Linked DNA regions of Homo sapiens. The protein of the gene in region 1 purifies or fractionates together with the protein of each later gene. This does not show direct contact. Each region holds a gene or a part of one and is shown on either strand. Other genes may lie near its edges. The genes, in order: RGS12 and NBEA.

Evidence for each region.
Region 2: the proteins of RGS12 (region 1) and NBEA purify together in Homo sapiens (affinity purification with mass spectrometry; one large-scale study listed by BioGRID and IntAct). This does not show direct contact.

Annotation. Positions count from the first base shown.
Region 1 is NC_000004.12:3,291,703-3,296,121, forward strand, and holds the start of RGS12 (regulator of G-protein signaling 12), read left to right. Parts: upstream 1-1,318; 5' UTR 1,319-1,397; intron 1,398-1,822; exon of another isoform or gene 1,823-3,202; intron 3,203-4,419. UniProt on the Homo sapiens protein: Regulates G protein-coupled receptor signaling cascades. Inhibits signal transduction by increasing the GTPase activity of G protein alpha subunits, thereby driving them into their inactive GDP-bound form.
Region 2 is NC_000013.11:35,155,230-35,159,038, reverse strand, and holds part of NBEA (neurobeachin), read right to left. Parts: intron 3,266-3,809; coding exon 3,184-3,265; intron 2,957-3,183; coding exon 2,833-2,956; intron 1,962-2,832; coding exon 1,769-1,961; intron 24-1,768; coding exon 1-23. UniProt on the Homo sapiens protein: Binds to type II regulatory subunits of protein kinase A and anchors/targets them to the membrane. May anchor the kinase to cytoskeletal and/or organelle-associated proteins.

The DNA.
Region 1 (4,419 bases):
GGTCGCAGCTCCTGTTAAGTATCTCTCTCTCTTTGTCTGGCTTCCTGTAACCGCTCTGGCCGCGCTCCTTCAGCCCTGCAGGTGAAAACAGTTCCCTCCCTGCTGTTACCTGTCCCAATTCAGCACCGCCCTGTGGCTTCCCGGCTCCCGGACCGCGCCTCTGCCAGCGGGAACCCTGCTGGACTCTTAATTAATTGTCCCACTGAGAATGCCATTGGTTTCCTCCTGGGATCCAAACTAATCACACAAGACTAGATGATGGAGAGCTGCCAAGAAACCATGGGGCGGTGGCGGGGACGGAGGGGAAGCGTTTTGAGCCCATCAAGGCAGGTGACAGGAAAGAAGCAAACCCGAGAGGGGCCGAGTCCCTGGGCGGGCGGCAGGGCTGGAGCGTGAACAGCAGCGACGGATGCGTCTCGAGGGAAAAACGCGGCGGGAGAGAATGAGGGGAAGGCAGGAAGGAAGGGGCAGGGAGACCCAGCGCCGGGGAAGGAAGACACGAAGAGGGCGAGGAAGGAACTCCGGCCTAAAGGGTGAAGGCGGCGGCTGGGACAGGGCCAGAGGCGCAGGCCGGGGCCGGGCAGCTCCTCCTCTCGTGCCAGCGGTGCCTCCGGTCCCGCCCTCGCTGCTGCCCGCGCTCCGGGAGGGGCAGACCCGCTGGACGCCGCAGTCACCGCGCCGCCTTCGCGGGCGTCCCGGGGCCCGGAGGGAACGGCCTTTCCTGGCTGTCCCCGTGGCTTCGCCGCGGGAACTCACGCCGCCCCCGAAGCTGCCGCCAGCTCCGGGCATCTGCCCAGCCGAAAAGCCAGGGCGCCGGGGCCTGACTCCCCACAGCCAGGTTTCCCGGGCACAGAGACCCAACGGGAGCGGGACTTCCTCGGACACCGACGGCGAAGGACAGAGACAGCCCAGGCAGGGGCGGCTCCTCCCGGCCACACCGACCTGCCCTTCGCAGGGTGTCCCGGGCCAGCGGAGGCAGAGAAAACCAGCTTGCGGGAACGCAGTCGCTCCCAGCACCAGGGCCGGGCCAGTGCGGGTACACACCGTGCGCACCAGCGCCGCCGCGCCCCCAACGGAAGTCCCGCCCCCGGCCGTGGAGGCCCCGTCCCTCGCTTCTTCTCATCCCTGCTTCCCTGGCAGTCCCGTTACCACGCTGTCCCGACGCGAAGGCCCTCGCCCCGCCCCGTGCCCCGCCCCCGCATCGCCCCGCCCCAACCCCACCCCCTTGGCCCCGCCTCACCAGGTTCGCCCCGCCCCTCTCCGTCCCCGCCCCTCCTCCGGCCTCGGCCCCGCCCTCGCCTCGACCCCGGGGGGCGGTGGCTGCCGAGGCGACCGTTGCGCGCGCGGGCGGTGGCGCGGGCCGAAGCGCCCGGAGCGGGAGCGAGCGGCGCGGCCCGGTAGGTGTGCGGGGCCGGGGCCGGGGCGGGGGCAGGGCGCGCCGCCTCCGCTCTTTCTTTCGTCTCCGGGGCGCGCGCCCGCGCCCTCCGCCTCCCGGCCGATCCCGGCCAGCCCTGCGCGGCGCCCGTCCCCTCGGGGTCGCCGCCCGCCCGCCCTGCCTTTTGTTCGCCGGCCTGACTCAGGCTCCTGGTCCCGGGCCCGGCGCGGGGCGGGGCGGGGCGGGGGCGGGGGCGGGCGGCGCGGGGCGCGGGCCTGTGGGGCCTCCGGCCGGGCGGGTGCGCGGCCTCCTGGGGCCCCGCGCTGTGAGGCCCGCCCGGGCCCTTGGCGGGACCCGCGGGGGCGGCGCCGGGCAGGGGGTCCCGCGGGCGAGATGCGCCCGGGAGCGCTGGGAGGGTTCCCTCGTCGGACTCCACGAGCGGCCGCTTTGTTAGGGCAGAAGCTGCCTTCCGAGACCCGAACTCCAGACGCACTGCAGCGACCTGGGGTCGCCTCAGCCGCGGTGCCGCGATTGTGCAGTGTAGACAGAGGGGTCCCAGAGCCGTGCGGTGTAGACAGAGAGGGGCCCAAAGCTGTGGAATGGGGACAGAGAGGGGACCCAGAGCTGTGGAGTGTAGACAGAAAGGGCGCCCAGAGCCATGGAGTATAAACAGTGGAGTGTAGACAGAGAGGGGGCCCAGAGCTGTGGAGTGTGGACAGAGAGGGGGCCCAGAGCCGTGGAGTGTAGACCGAGAGGGGGCCCAGAGCCGTGGAGTGTAGACAGAGAGAGGGCCCAGAGCCATCTAGTGTAGACAGAGAGGGGACCCATAGCTGTGGAGTGTAGACAGAGTCTCATAGCCGTGCAGACAGAGAAGGGGCCCAGAGCCATGGAGTGTAGACAGTGGAGGGTGAACACAGAGGGGGCCCAGAGCCGTGGAGTGTGGACAGAGAGGACCACCTGGCCTCTCACCTGCTTGGTCACTTGCTGGGAATGTGTCCCTGGGCAGGTGACCACCTTCTCTGTGCCTGAGTTTCCTCATTGGACCTGTCTTTGGAGCTGCTGCAAGGGCTAAGAGTGTCTTTGTCTGAAGTCCTCAGCGTGGTCCATGCCGTCCTGTGCAGGGCCCTTCTGAGGCCACAGGGACGTGCAGGATGGCCGGCAAGGCCTGCACAGAAGGGGCGCTGGGGGGCCTTCCCAGGCAAGGCAGCAGCCCCACCATTCACAGCAAGGAGACTACCAAGGAGGGCAGAGAGGCGGCTTTGGGCAGCAAGGGCTGCTGGGGTGGAGTCCTGCTGGCCTTCCCCTAGAGAAGGCGACGTGGGGAGGGCAGAGCAATTCTGAGTAAGGGAGAACCAGTTTATATTTCACTTTAGAAAGTAATTGTCACAGTGCGAAGTTTCTTCCCCTGAAAAAGCGATATAAAAAGGTCCATCGTGGCCAGTGCTTTTGGGGACTTGAGATGATGGGTATCCGGTGCCCGGGCCCTGCGTGGTGCCTCAGCTGGATGCTCTGCAGGTGGGGGAGGCCATGTTGGCTGAGGGCAGGGGCTCAGGCAAGGGCAGTGGGGTGGCTGAGCCTGCACAAGTTGGTGCACCCCTGTCTGGGTCTTTTTCTTAAAACTGCAAGTCCAGCCTTATCTCTGAGACCTCCTGAGGCTGGAACCTGCCATCAGACAGGCTTACAGTTCTAGCCCTGGTAACTGCAATGATGCGGATGCCTCTGTGACTGGCAGAGCAGAGGGAGGAGCGACAGGGCAGTGGTGACCGGAGGTCTCAGGGAGGTTGACAAAGACAAGGGCGGAGGAAAGGCCCCTCACGTGGACTGGAGGTACAGTACTGACCTGTGGAGTGCTCAGGAGAGGGCAGGGGTGGCGCGGCCTGAGGGCATGTCCTGGGGAGGGTCAGGAGGTGGGAGGGAGGCACTCGACAGGCACTGCAAAGAGGAGGGAATCCAGGGTCAAGGGCTGGCTCCCTTTCTGCCCTGTTTAGGATGAGGGTCTCGGGGAAGAAGGGGTGGCCAGGCCGAGGAGACCTGTGGCGCTGGGAGCTGGGACTCAGTGAGGTCCTGGAGGTGGTGAGGGCCCAGAGGTGACAGCTGGTGACCCAGCCGGCCTGGCTGCTGCTGTGGGAAGGTCGGGGGTAGAGGAGATGGAGGACAGGCTGAGGCTGCCGCTAGTCAGCGCTTCCGGCTGATAGAAGGGGGCTGAGTGGGCTCTGCAGGCCTGGTTGACAGTATGTGGATCACATTGACTTTGGACCTTTATTTTTGTCTGAGACTGACCAAGCAAAATAATCAGGCTGGGCTGGGTGCAGTGACTTAACGCCTGTAATACCAGCACTTTGGGAGGCTGAGGCAGGTGGATCACCTGAGGTCAGGAGTTCGAGACCAGCCTGGCCAACATGGTGAAACCCCGTCTCTACTAAAAATACAAAATTATTCGGGTGTGGTGGCAGACGCCTGTAATCCCAGCTACTCGGGAGGCTGAGACACAAGATTCGCTTGAACCTGGGAGGCGGAGGTTGCGGTGAGCCAAGATTGCGCCATTGCACTCCAGCCTGGGTGACAAGAGCAAAACTCTGTCTCAAAAAAAAAAAAAAAAAAAAAGCTCCATCTCAAAAACAAAGACAAACCAACAACAACAACAACAAAAAGCAGGCTGAAGGAATAAACAACTCATTAGTTACGACTTAACACATGCAGGGCTTCAAGCACACAAAATCCTAAAGCCCAGACCATTTTACATTTTATTTGAATTTGGTGGAATTCCTAGAAACATTTCCCTTCCCAGTTGTATGAGTTTCCTATTGCTGTGTAACAAAGCACCACTCACTTAGTGGCTGAAAATGGCAAAAGTTTATTTGCCCTAGTTGGGCTGAAACTGGTGTCATCGTCAGCTGGCCAAGCTCCCTCCCGAGGCACTGGAGGAGAACTGTTGGCCCGCCCCAGTCAGCTTCTGGAGGCTGGAGGAGAGCCGTTCACCCCCCTGGTCAGCTTCTGGGGGCTGGAGGAAAACTGCCCCCCTGGTCAGCTTCTGGGGGCTGGCC
Region 2 (3,809 bases), on another chromosome or scaffold:
TCCTTATGAGCTTCATAAGTGACCTTAGGAATAAGTAAAGAAAACATTAAGGCATTTTGTACATATCAAAAAGAAAAAACTAAATAATACAAATTAAATTGTGGAAATAGAAAAAATAATGCCAGAAAGTTTAAGACTTCAAAGCTGGCATTTGTTAGTCCTAAAGCAAGTGCTTAGTTTCATTAAGTAACTGGAAATAATCAACAAATACAGCTATATATGATTTATTATAAGGATTGCCAAAATCACACAGATAACTCAGCAATATTAAAAGCTATTTTCTTTTAGGCTAAGTATTTCAATGTTACCCAAACCAAATATGCCAGTTAACTTCCACACATTTATGTAAGCTTAAACAGAGAATAAGCAGCTAATAATATACAATAACCAAAGTACTATTACTATGTTGGTTTTCACCATCTATTGCTCATATGTGCACCCTTCCCAACAACTGATGTTAAAAAATTCACACATATCATTAAATATATAAATTTACAAGCTATTAAAATATCACAGTTTTATCCTTATATAAGCTGTTTTGGCTTTGTTACTTTACTTAGGCTTCTTTATTAATAATCAGAATACTTTTTTTTTGCACAAAGACCTGCAATGTCTTTTTCTTTGCTATTTTCAAATTTGTTAAAGCAATGATAAATCTGAGGTGTCAATACTTCACAAAATGTAAATTTATAATTGAAACAAAAGCTTTTCTAATATTTTTTAAAGTTCACAGACTTTCTCTTACAGACATGGGTTCTATTAATGTATATTTAAATAAGTTAACAGAATTTTAGATTGGGGGGACCATCCTTTAAAGAATATCTCATAATACAAAAATCCCCTTAATTTTACAGAAGAAGAAAGCAAGTCCCAAAAGTGGGGGTTGGTAACATAAGGCCCATGGGACAAAACTGCTTATCACCTCTTTGGGTGAATAAAGGTTTATTCAAACAAAGCCATGATCATTCATTTACATTATGTATTGTCTTTCACACTGAACGGCAGAGTTGAGTAGCTGCATCAGAGGCTATAGAGCCCACACAGCCTATAATATTTACTATCTATCCTTTTAAACATTTTTTTCTAACTCGTGTTCAAGAAGACTTAATGAGTCTCCTAAAATCACAAAACTCAATTATGGCACAGACTAAATTAAAAGCCATACTTCTGACACCCATGCTTCTTCTATAACACTTCATGATGAGAAACCCATAACTCTGAATTTCCAGAATCTAATGTGTATATACTTGTACAGTTTAATTCACTATTTCATTTTACCAAAGATCAAATAATACTTAAAATAGACATACAGATTTTTAAGATTAAAAATAAAGAAAAGATAAAGCAATTAAAATACCACTAAACTTAAACACTGTATTTATGATTCACTTGGAAATAAAAAAATCTGACTTCTTAAAAAAAAGTCTTAAAAAGTATATTTCAGAGACTATTTCATAAAATATTCTTCCAAGAACCAGTTGAAAGAGCAAGTGGCTCAGATTAAAGTTCCCAGATTTGCTATAAAACAGATGTATGTCAGCTTTGGGTATAAAACTCCTGATTTATAAATTTGGGGTTTGAATTAATTCATCTATAAGCCACTTTCAAGTTCTAACAGTCTATGAACAATGAGGGAAAAATACAAAACTGAGATACAGGAATCTGTCAAAATCTAAGATGCCCACAAGATGGCACCAGATGCATGTTTGTAGCCATTTAATCCACTGCAATAACTCTGATGATGTTAAAATGTTAAATCCCGTGTTACCTTGGAATGGGCTATTGAGAGGGTATCCACCCAGACTCTCCAGCCTCCCCATTCATATTTTATTGCATGATACAAAAGAATCCGGAAGATATTGTAGACCATTTCGGTAATCTTCTGTTCCTCAGAATTTTTAGGATTGATATAGCCAAGAGAAAACATCCAATCCTGCCACACTGAACACTGCAATAAGCATCTAGGGAGAAAAAAATTTGATCTCATTAAAAATATCCAAATTAAGTTAGAATTTACTATTTTGAAACTTTGATAAATAAAATAGTGAAAATATGATCTGACCTCAGTAAAGCAAGGTGTACAGTCATGCTGCACGTTATATATTCTATACTTGGAATGACTTTCTCTTATTTCTCTACCAGGAAAAATCCTAATTATCATTCAAAATCATTTTCCTAACTTTCACAGTCAGATTTACTTATTGCTTCTCTACTTTCTCACCACCTTTAGCACTCACAATGTACTTAACACATTATACATTAATCATTGCTTTATGGTTTCCCACTGGAATGTACTGAGACTGTGTACTAAGACTATCTTGTGTAGCACAAAGTCTTACACTGAACACAGTAGGCACTCAATCAATATTTGTTAAATTATAGACTCAGGCAATGACTACCCCAGAGTTCATGGCCTCAGACTTTACCCCATGTTCAAGCTAACTAGCTTAAAAATGCACAACATTCGGCCATAAGAAATATGGGGTGGAAAGCATAGATGAAAATGGGGAAATCCAACACAATTACAACTGAAAGTTCCATTGGTGATAGATAGGTACCACTAAAAGGGATATTACATTCTAAATAAGAGTTTGTTTATATGTATATTCATATATACAATTAAAATATAATATCCACGTAACAAAATAAAAATAATATAAAAATAAATAGAAGAATACCGAATACAGATTATGTCAAAGAAACATAAAATGCCTTTTCTGATGATTAAAAGTATTTAGCAATATGGAAAAGATTTGAAATGAATTGAAAATCTAAAAGAGAGAAAATATTAATTATGGAATAAAGTGTTGTTACAGTATCCAAACTGCTTACCTTCTATTTTCACGGCTGTTACTGAAAAGTTTTATCATATCAGATAAAAATAAACGACGAACTTCCATCAGCTCTGCACTTGGTGTAGAGTTTTTTAACAAAGTTGCCACCACTTTAAGAATCACTGTAAACAAAGAAAAAAAACTTGTAGATTTGTAACCATATCCTATGTTCAACTCAAAAAGTATTACCAACTTTCAAATAAATACTTAACACTATAAAAGGTGAGTTAAAACTGTCATGAACTAGGTAAACACCATAATGATTTAAGGGGTTAGGAAAAGTTTTGATTTAGTCTCATATGTTGCCATGCGCCTACCACAATACAGTAAAGAACTGCCATTTGCTCACTTGGATTCTGAATTTTCACTGTAGAATCTGGCTCTGGATGTGGTTTGTGTACGACCTGAGTACATACTTGTTCTGTCAAGATCTGAAAAATGAAGAATTTGAACTTCATTTAGAAAACAATTTAAATAATAATTGCAAAATATAGATATACAATGAACCTGCAAAAGAAATGTCAATGCAGTCCAAACCAAAAGAAACATCTCTTCTAAAGGGACTTTTTTCTTTCTTTCTTTCAAGACGGAGTTTCACTCTTGTTGCCCAGGTTGGAGTGCAATGGTGCAATCTTGGCTTCAACCTCCACCTCATGGGTTCAAGTGACTCTCTTCCCTCAGTCTCCCAAATAGCTGGGATTACAGGCATGTGCCACCACGCCTGGCTAATTTTTTGTATTTTTAGTAGAGACAGGGTTTCACCATATTGATCAGGCTGGTCTCGAACTCCTGACCTCAGATGATCCACCCGCCTCAGCCTCCCAAAGTGCTGGGGTTACAGGTGTGAGCCACCATGCCCAGCCCTAAAGAGACTTTTTAATGAATTCCACATACTTCTAAACTCTTTAACTCTGTATTCACCAAATTTTATTTATTATTTATACATACAAAACCAGAACCAGTATCTATAGAAGG